2 separate regions of the Homo sapiens genome follow, and region 2 is reported to be linked to region 1. The links are microRNA targets in miRTarBase. Many come from high-throughput screens and were not tested one by one. Region 1 holds a microRNA gene; the other region holds the end of a gene's coding sequence.
What was found. The annotated mature microRNA hsa-miR-4501 reads UAUGUGACCUCGGAUGAAUCA and lies in region 1 at 1,173-1,193, shown strand. An mRNA with a match to its seed (bases 2 to 7 or 8) in the 3' UTR can be bound and repressed. Matches are read on the target gene's strand: a 7mer-m8 pairs with bases 2 to 8, a 7mer-A1 pairs with bases 2 to 7 and ends in A, and an 8mer does both.

Region 2: miRTarBase lists TMEM101 as a target of hsa-miR-4501. Seed matches in the 3' UTR shown: 7mer-m8 at 967-973.

Annotation. Positions count from the first base shown.
Region 1 is chr13:96,426,057-96,430,320 of GRCh38, forward strand. MIR4501 (microRNA 4501) reads left to right here and starts at 1,173; the gene lies at 1,173-1,236. The region is part of intron 1 of HS6ST3 (heparan sulfate 6-O-sulfotransferase 3); the gene reads left to right.
Region 2 is chr17:44,008,129-44,012,392 of GRCh38, reverse strand. It overlaps TMEM101 (transmembrane protein 101), which reads left to right. Exons shown (of 4, transcript NM_032376.4): 4 at 157-1,205. The coding sequence ends at 465. NAGS (N-acetylglutamate synthase) reads right to left here. Exons shown (of 7, transcript NM_153006.3): 7 at 3,325-3,945. The coding sequence ends at 3,792. Among named protein-coding and RNA genes, the nearest start is that of TMEM101, 4.7 kb to the left of the region's middle. RefSeq lists a silencer at 838-1,132.

The DNA of each region.
Region 1 (4,264 bases):
ATAGCCACTTGTGTAGGTCAAATATTGGTTAGTCCATGATTCAACCTAAATTGTATTTTTAAAAAGGGTAAAATTAAAAAAAAAATGGCCACCTTGCTGTAAGACCCCTGCTTCAGGCAGGGGTCTCGTCAACCTGTCACAGCTGTGTAATTATGTAAAGCTAATAAGCTTCATAACCTCATTTCAGGGTTATATTGTTCGCACTGCCTCTATTTGTGTTTTTTGAATCCAGCTCGTAAAGCCTATAATTAGGAGGAAGCATCAAAGTGCCTACTTACACACTTTTTATTTGTTTTCTAAGGTTGTAATTGTCTATAAGTGCTTGCATGGCTGACAATTCAGCAAACAGAATGGTTTCCAAATACTCTCATTGCAGCTTTCTTGATGTTTCTTTCTGTTTCATTCCTCACCTTGAAGCAATTCAGTTTTTCCCAGCTTTAATTCCACTCAAAAGTAGGAAAATGTTTATTTTCAATTAGAGTCTTACATAGCTTGATGGTTTCCCTTTGCCATTTTAAAGGGACTAGAGGAAATTAAAATCCGAGACAGTAAGTCATTTGACTTTTTTTAGTAAAATGATTGCTACTTTCTTCTCTTTATTGAAAGGGTTTTGAGATTTATCTCTGGAGTCAACTGCTTCTGTGTTCCTGGTGCTCTATGCAGTTAGCTGATGAGAGCTCTTCTGAAGTTGGTCCCTGTTCTCCATGTGTCTTTTAAAGAATTTCTTTTGCTTGTTTCCTTAAATAGTATGTTGCACAAGTTGAACTTAATTGATTTTGGTGATACATGCTTACTCCTGAATAAATGATAAATATGACTGCCTATCTTTTGCAAGGGTTTTAGTTCTGTTCTGTATAACATTAACATTGATAAACTAGTAGAGTTGTTCTCTACACATATGAAATATCTGGGGATAATGTAAAAATTCTGAGGTCCAATCAAATCTTGAAATAATTACAGCAGAATTGGGGGTAGGATTTGAGCCTCAGGAATTTTTAAAGCTTCCCAGGTGATTCCAATATTTGGCTAAGAATGAAATCCATAGTTAGAACGGATATACTTAGGTGAAAGTATAGTTGGTGGGGACATAGAAATTCATACTTAACCAGGAGAACAAACATGGTGCATTGGAATTAAATGGAGCTGGGTCTGAATTCCAGTCTATCACTTGTTATGTGACCTCGGATGAATCACTGAAATATGTCTGAGCTTCTGTTTCATCAGATGTCACATTTTATAAGTGATAGTGCTATTGTGAGGATTAAATAAGATAGTACCTGTCAAATACTCAGTATCAGTAGATCTCAATGAAGGTTAGCTTCTTTCTCCCCTCCTTTTTTAATATAGAGTTTATTTCAGGGAAGACTTCACAATGATGAAAATATGTGATTTTTCTCCACTGGTGGTGTTTTATTAGTTCATTTATTTTGTTATTTGATTTTTATATTATTAGTCATAGTACATATTACTTTTATAATACATTATTTATATTATGATATATTATTTTAATTTTGAAATAAATTTAGCATTACAAAAACATTACAAAGATAGAACTGAGAGTTTTTGTATATCCTTTATTCAGCTTTCCCTAATATTTAACATCTTGCATAATTATAGGACCTTTATTAGAACTGAGAAATCTACATTGGTACAATGCTATTATTTCACCAGAGCTCCATAAAGATCCTTTGTCTGTTCCAGGATCGAATCCAGGATCCCACATTGCATTTAGTTTTTATGTTTCCTTTGACTCCTACAATCTGTGGCAATTCTTGGACTTGTCTTGCTTTCTTGACCTTGACACTTTGAGAGTACTGATCAGTTGTGTTCTAGAATACCTCACAATTTGGGATTATCTGATGCCTACTCATGGACAGATTGAGTTTAGGCATTTTTGGCAACAATACCATAGAAGTAATGTACCCTTTTCAATATGAGGGGTACATGATGTTGGTATCTGTGGGGTTCTTTACATAATTAATAATAGTTAGGGATATGAGACACATTTGAGGGTGCTATATTAGTTTGATAAGGCTGCCATAGAAAGTATCACAGATGTGGTGGGCAGATCACCAGTTCAGGAGATCAAGACTGTCCTGGCTTACATGATGAAACCCCATCTCTACTAAAAATACAAAAAAAATTAGCCGGGCATGGTGGCACATACCTGTAGTCCCAGCTACTCAGGAGGCTGAGGCAGAAGAATCGCTTGACAGGGAGTCGGAGGTGCAGTGAGCTTAGACCGCACCACTGCACTCCAGCCTGGGCGACAGAGCGAGACTCCGTCTCAAAAAACAAACAAAAAAAGTATCACGGACTGGGTGGTTTAATAAATAAAATCTTATTTTCTCAGAGTTCTGGAGACTGGAGGTCTGAAATCAGGGTGTCAGCAGGGTTGGTTTCTTTTGTGGTCTCTCTCCTTGGCTTGTAAATGTCCATCTTCTCATGGTGTCTTTATATAGTCTTACCTTCTGTGTGTGTGTCTGTGTCCTAACCTCCTCTTCTCAAAAGGACACCAGTCATTGGATTAGGGCCCACCCCAATGACCTCATTTAATCTAGTTACCTCTTTAAAGACCCAATCTTCAAATAATGTCAGGTACAAGGAGATAGGACTTCAATATATGAATTTGGGGGTGGCAATTCAGCCCATTCCAGGTGCTTATCAAGTAAGAACATAGACTGAAATAGAACAGGCAAAAGATTTAACCAGGAATGCAAGTGCTCTGCAGTGCTCCTTAGAAATAGAAGCAGCTTCTTGGCAAAGTGGAGAAAACCATCACAGCAAACATAATGAAGCTCGATGAGGACAAAAATGCTCAATGGGAGAACCAAGCTGCTTAAGCAGTAAATAGAATATGGTGGAAGAACACGATGGGGATGGGTAGGAATGGTCCTTGTAGTTATAAATGACTATAAGAAAATCACGTGCCCATATTACAGCTGTAAAACTCAACGTGCTATGGTGATGTTGCAAGATATTTAAAGGCACAGAAATTTTTTTCAAAGAAACATTGAAAAGGGCTTATTCAGCCAAAAGAAGAAATTGCTGATGGGGGATTTAATTATCTTTGAGTACTGTATGTGCATGAGCTGTTAAACCAAGGACAGTGACCAGCTGTTTCGAAACTTTACAAGAACAGCTTTTAATTAAACAGGCTTAAGTGACAATGAATGAGGCTCAGATTAGAATAGAATAAAAATTTCCTGATAGAAACAGTGGTTAAATACCGAAAGGTTACCTATAGAAGCAGCGTGATATTATAAAATGAACATTGGATTGAAGTTAGATATATCTGTTTTAAATACCAAGTTACTATTCCACTACATGATCTTAGACAAAGAACTTAGCCCTCGTGAAAACACTAACAGTCTCATTTTTGGGGGAGTTAACTGAGCTACTATATGTAATTTTGGTAGATTTACTAATGTAAATTTAGAAGATTTAGAACAGAGCTTGCTGCACAATAATTGTTAGTTTGATCGACAGCTACTTTCTTCCCTGTATAAGTTCATTCCCTAGACATGTCTAAAGAGTACAGTGTTCTTTGCTCAACCTGAGCTGGTGTATATGTGGTGTTATTTGAAGTCCAGAGAAATTATATTTTCAGCCCTTTAGCTGTAAGACTTTACATTTCCTAACACAAAGTGGTTTTTAAGCTTAAATTCCTAACCCTCTAAGAATTCAGGTAAAGCAGATAGTCTGTAGGTTCGATAGAAAATTATAGGGAGTAGGAAAACTCTTTTTTTGTTGTCAGAATAATGCAGGCTCTTGTGTTTGGGAAAAAGCATGAATTATTTGACAAATTGTAGTTTATAAAATTCAGCTATGGTTAGCCACTGTGTGTTACTGGATTTTACAGAAATATTTTTCTATTGTAGATTTAAACCCCTTAACAAATAATAAACCCTGACAGAAAGGCATGATAAAATATAGGGGCTCATTCATAGAATCTAAATTGACGCTGATCACTATGCTTTCACAATTTGATTTAATGTACTTGCTGTGTGTTCATCCTCTGAGACAACATTGCAGCTAGCGTCTTAGCATAGCTGTGGATGCTACAGGCTTTGAGTTCTAATTTGGGGTATTACCCTTTTTTAGTTTGAGGAAATCCACAGTCTTTCGATTTTCTATCTATGAAATTAAAATGAACCTAATTTCTGGCTTCATTGGAGTTATTTATTTTAAGTGTAATGCCTACATCTCGTAGGTTTCACCAGTTTGGGGAATACAAATGATGTCACATTTAGCAGTCATATTC
Region 2 (4,264 bases), not on the chromosome of region 1:
GGAGACAAAGGCCCTACTTTCAGAGGTTCCCCAGTCCAAGAGGGGAGTCAGAAGCCCATCTGCAGGGACTCATTTGCAGGTGCCATCTCAGGGGTGGTTTACCCCAGACAGGCTTCTGAGCCTGTTGGAGAGTCTTAGAGGATGTTATGTCTCCAGGCCTACTCACTGCAGCACAGCAAGGAGGACCGGCTGGCGTATCTGAACCATCTCCCAGGAGGGGAGCTGATGATCCAGCTGTTCTTCGTGCTGTATGGCATCCTGGCCCTGGCCTTTCTGTCAGGCTACTACGTGACCCTCGCTGCCCAGATCCTGGCTGTACTGCTGCCCCCTGTCATGCTGCTCATTGATGGCAATGTTGCTTACTGGCACAACACGCGGCGTGTTGAGTTCTGGAACCAGATGAAGCTCCTTGGAGAGAGTGTGGGCATCTTCGGAACTGCTGTCATCCTGGCCACTGATGGCTGAGTTTTATGGCAAGAGGCTGAGATGGGCACAGGGAGCCACTGAGGGTCACCCTGCCTTCCTCCTTGCTGGCCCAGCTGCTGTTTATTTATGCTTTTTGGTCTGTTTGTTTGATCTTTTGCTTTTTTAAAATTGTTTTTTGCAGTTAAGAGGCAGCTCATTTGTCCAAATTTCTGGGCTCAGCGCTTGGGAGGGCAGGAGCCCTGGCACTAATGCTGTACAGGTTTTTTTCCTGTTAGGAGAGCTGAGGCCAGCTGCCCACTGAGTCTCCTGTCCCTGAGAAGGGAGTATGGCAGGGCTGGGATGCGGCTACTGAGAGTGGGAGAGTGGGAGACAGAGGAAGGAAGATGGAGATTGGAAGTGAGCAAATGTGAAAAATTCCTCTTTGAACCTGGCAGATGCAGCTAGGCTCTGCAGTGCTGTTTGGAGACTGTGAGAGGGAGTGCGTGTGTTGACACATGTGGATCAGGCCCAGGAAGGGCACAGGGGCTGAGCACTACAGAAGTCACATGGGTTCTCAGGGTATGCCAGGGGCAGAAACAGTACCGGCTCTCTGTCACTCACCTTGAGAGTAGAGCAGACCCTGTTCTGCTCTGGGCTGTGAAGGGGTGGAGCAGGCAGTGGCCAGCTTTGCCCTTCCTGCTGTCTCTGTTTCTAGCTCCATGGTTGGCCTGGTGGGGGTGGAGTTCCCTCCCAAACACCAGACCACACAGTCCTCCAAAAATAAACATTTTATATAGACATTTGGTTTTGCTTTTCTGTTCTCCCCAACAGGGAACTCTGCCATTGGCTGGGATTGATCTTGGGTTTCTTGAAACACTAGATCTGGTCAAGCCCCACCTTGGGCCTCCCGTGATCTTTCCCCTGTTCCAAGATTTCCCACAGTTCTTTGGCTCTCTCTCTTTCTTTTTTTTTTTAATTTTTCACTTCTTTATTTTTTAGAGACAAGGTCTCACTTTGTTGTCCAGGCTGGTTTCAGACTCCTTGGCTCAAGTGATTCTCCAGCCTCAGCCTCAGCCTCCCAAAGTGCTGGGACTACAGGCATAAGCCACTGTGCCCAGTGGCTCTCTTTTTCAAGAATCTCAAAATCCTCATTGTACTATATGCTTTCAATCCCTCACCTCAGTCCCTCTTGTTGTAGGTTGTCTTTTTCTCCCCATTTGGAGCTGGTTCTTATGAAGACATCTTTGGTGAGAGCAGCTAGAGGGAGAGAACTGTGAAGTGTCCACTGTGAAGTGGAATATTTTACACTTTATACATGAAGGAAATGGAGGCTCAGAGAGGATAAGCAGTTTCGGTCAAGCCACAGAGCAAATCCAGCCCACAGAGCTGGATTCCAGGTCAGGTCTGTCTAATGGTGAAGTCCAGATATGTACTCACTGTGACCCATCTCCTGAGGGGAGACAGAGGCTGCTCTATTCCAGCCCCTACTGTGCCATGATGGTCTCCCTGTTGACCTTCTCCCTTTTTTTTTGAGACGGAGTCTTGCTCTGTCACCTAGGCTGGAGTGCTGTGGCGTGATCTCTGCTCACTGCAAGCTCCGCTTCCCGGGTTCATGCCATTCTCCTGCCTCAGCCTCCCGAGTAGCTGGGACTACGGTTTTGTTTGTTTGTTTGTTTTTTGTTTTTTTTGAGACAGAGTCTCACTGTCACCCAGGCTGGAGTGCTGTGGTGTGATCTCGGCTCACTGCAACCTCTGCCTCCCGGGTTCAAGTGATTCTCCTGCCTCAGCCTCCTGAGTAGCTGGGATTACAGGTGCCCGCCACCATGCCTGGCTAATTTTTTTTTTTTTTGAGACGGAGTCTCGCTCTGTCGCCCAGGCTGGAGTGCAGTGGTGCGGTCTTGGCTCACTGCAAGCTCCGCCTCCCAGGTTCACGCCATTCTCCTGCCTCAGCCTCCTGAGTAGCTGGGACTACAGGCGCCCGCCACCACGCCCAGCTAATTTTTTGTATTTTTAGTAGAGATGGGGTTTCACTGTGTTAGCCAAGATGGTCTCGATCTCCTCACCTCGTGATCCACCCGCCTCGGCCTCCTAAAGTGCTGGGATTACAGGCGTGAGTCATCGCATCCGGCGACCTTCTCCCTTCTTGTCTATGTGTCTGCCAGAAAGTCACCCCAGCAGCAGCCGGTATGGTGCCTGCTACATTATGGAGCTTCAAAAAATGTCAAATGAAACCCCTGGGCTTTGGATTTCTGCCCATCGAGTCCTGTAGAGACTGGACACAACCACTAGTAGGGCCTAGGGGAAAACGTCCAAGTTTGAGCTTTTAAGCCAAAGCCATCTTTTAACTTCTCTGGGCTCTTGCAGGTAAACGGTCCGCCACTGATGCCTGGGTCTGGCTGTGAGCCCAGCCTAGAAAGGGAGCTGTGGGTGGAGGCACTCACAGGCAAGGGGAGCTGGGGCTGCTGTGGCCTGGTCTGTGGAAGGGAGGATGCTTCCTAATCTCTGGGAGGGAGATGGTGGCAGCATTCATCATAGAAGTCTTCTACTCCCTCCAGGAGTCCCCTGATTCCCCAGCCCTCAAGATCTTGCTCCCAGCCTGTAATCCTAGCATTTTGGGAGGCCAAGCAGGGAGGATTGCTTGAGCCCAGGAGTTTGAGAGCAGCCTTGGCAACATAGTGAGACCTCGTCTCTACCAAAAAAAAAAGATCCAGGTGTGGCGGTGCATGCCTGTGGTACCAGCTTATTTAGGAGGCTGACATGGGAGGATTGCTTGAGCCTGGGAGGTCAAGGCTGCAGTGAGCTGTGATTGCACCACTGTACTCTAGCCTTGGTAACAGAGCAAGATCCTGTCTTTAAAAAAAAAAAAAAAATCTTGCTCCCACGGGGTCACTTCTAATTTTCTTTCAAGTGTAAGCTGACTCTCAGACAAGTATTTGCATTTTAATCAAGGCCTCCTGAAAAACTGCAAGACCCAAAGGAATTAAAATGAATGGTAGAATATCACGCAGGCAGGGGTATTATTTTGGGTAAGGGAGCCTCAAAACATAGCACAGAGGCACAGAAACTAGCTCACCCTTAGGGTTAGTCCTGAGTAGAGCCCTGGAAGGCACCCTCCCCTCCCCTAATCCCCAGGTTGAAAATCGAAGGCCATTTGGTTGTAGCTTTAGAGTGAGTCGAGTTGGGGTCCTAGACTGGTCCCCTTCTTTCCTGTGCTTGTCCCACTTCAGCGCCTCCTCTGGGCAGAGCTGGGGCTGCTTTCTCCTCTGCAGATCACTCAGCCAACAAGCCCCCTTCAGCCTGTGGCTGGCTGCCTGGGGTCATGCCCAGCTGGCATGGCTTTTGGTCCACCCTGGCCATTCCAGGGCCTGTAGTGTCCATGGTGAGGGTCAGCTGCCTGGGTCAGAAGCTGGCTTGTGAAAGGAGTCTGGCAGTCCCTTGGCGTGGTTGACCAACTCATAGGAGTCCCGGATATCAGCCAGGCCAAACCAGAAGAAGATCCACTGCTTGTTGGAGAAGCTGCCATCACTGTGTTTGAAGTACCTGGGTGTGGGGAGGTGATGTAGGAAACAGTTTTTAGGGCAAGGCCAGTGTTCATTACTCACTGGTTCTGTCTTTAAAAAACATTGATTGAGGACCTACTGCATGCTGGGCACCCAGCTTGGTCCTGCTGTGTGTTATCTCATTTTATCCTCACAGCAGAGGCCTGAGCCTGGCATTGTGATGCTCAGCTCACAGAGAAGCAGCTAAGGCTCAGAGAAGTTAGGTACCTTGCCAGGCGCACACAGGAAGGGAGCGGGTGCTTTGCTCTCCACACTGCCTTGGCTGTGCAGCAAAGAGGAGGGTTCTTGCTCACTTCCTA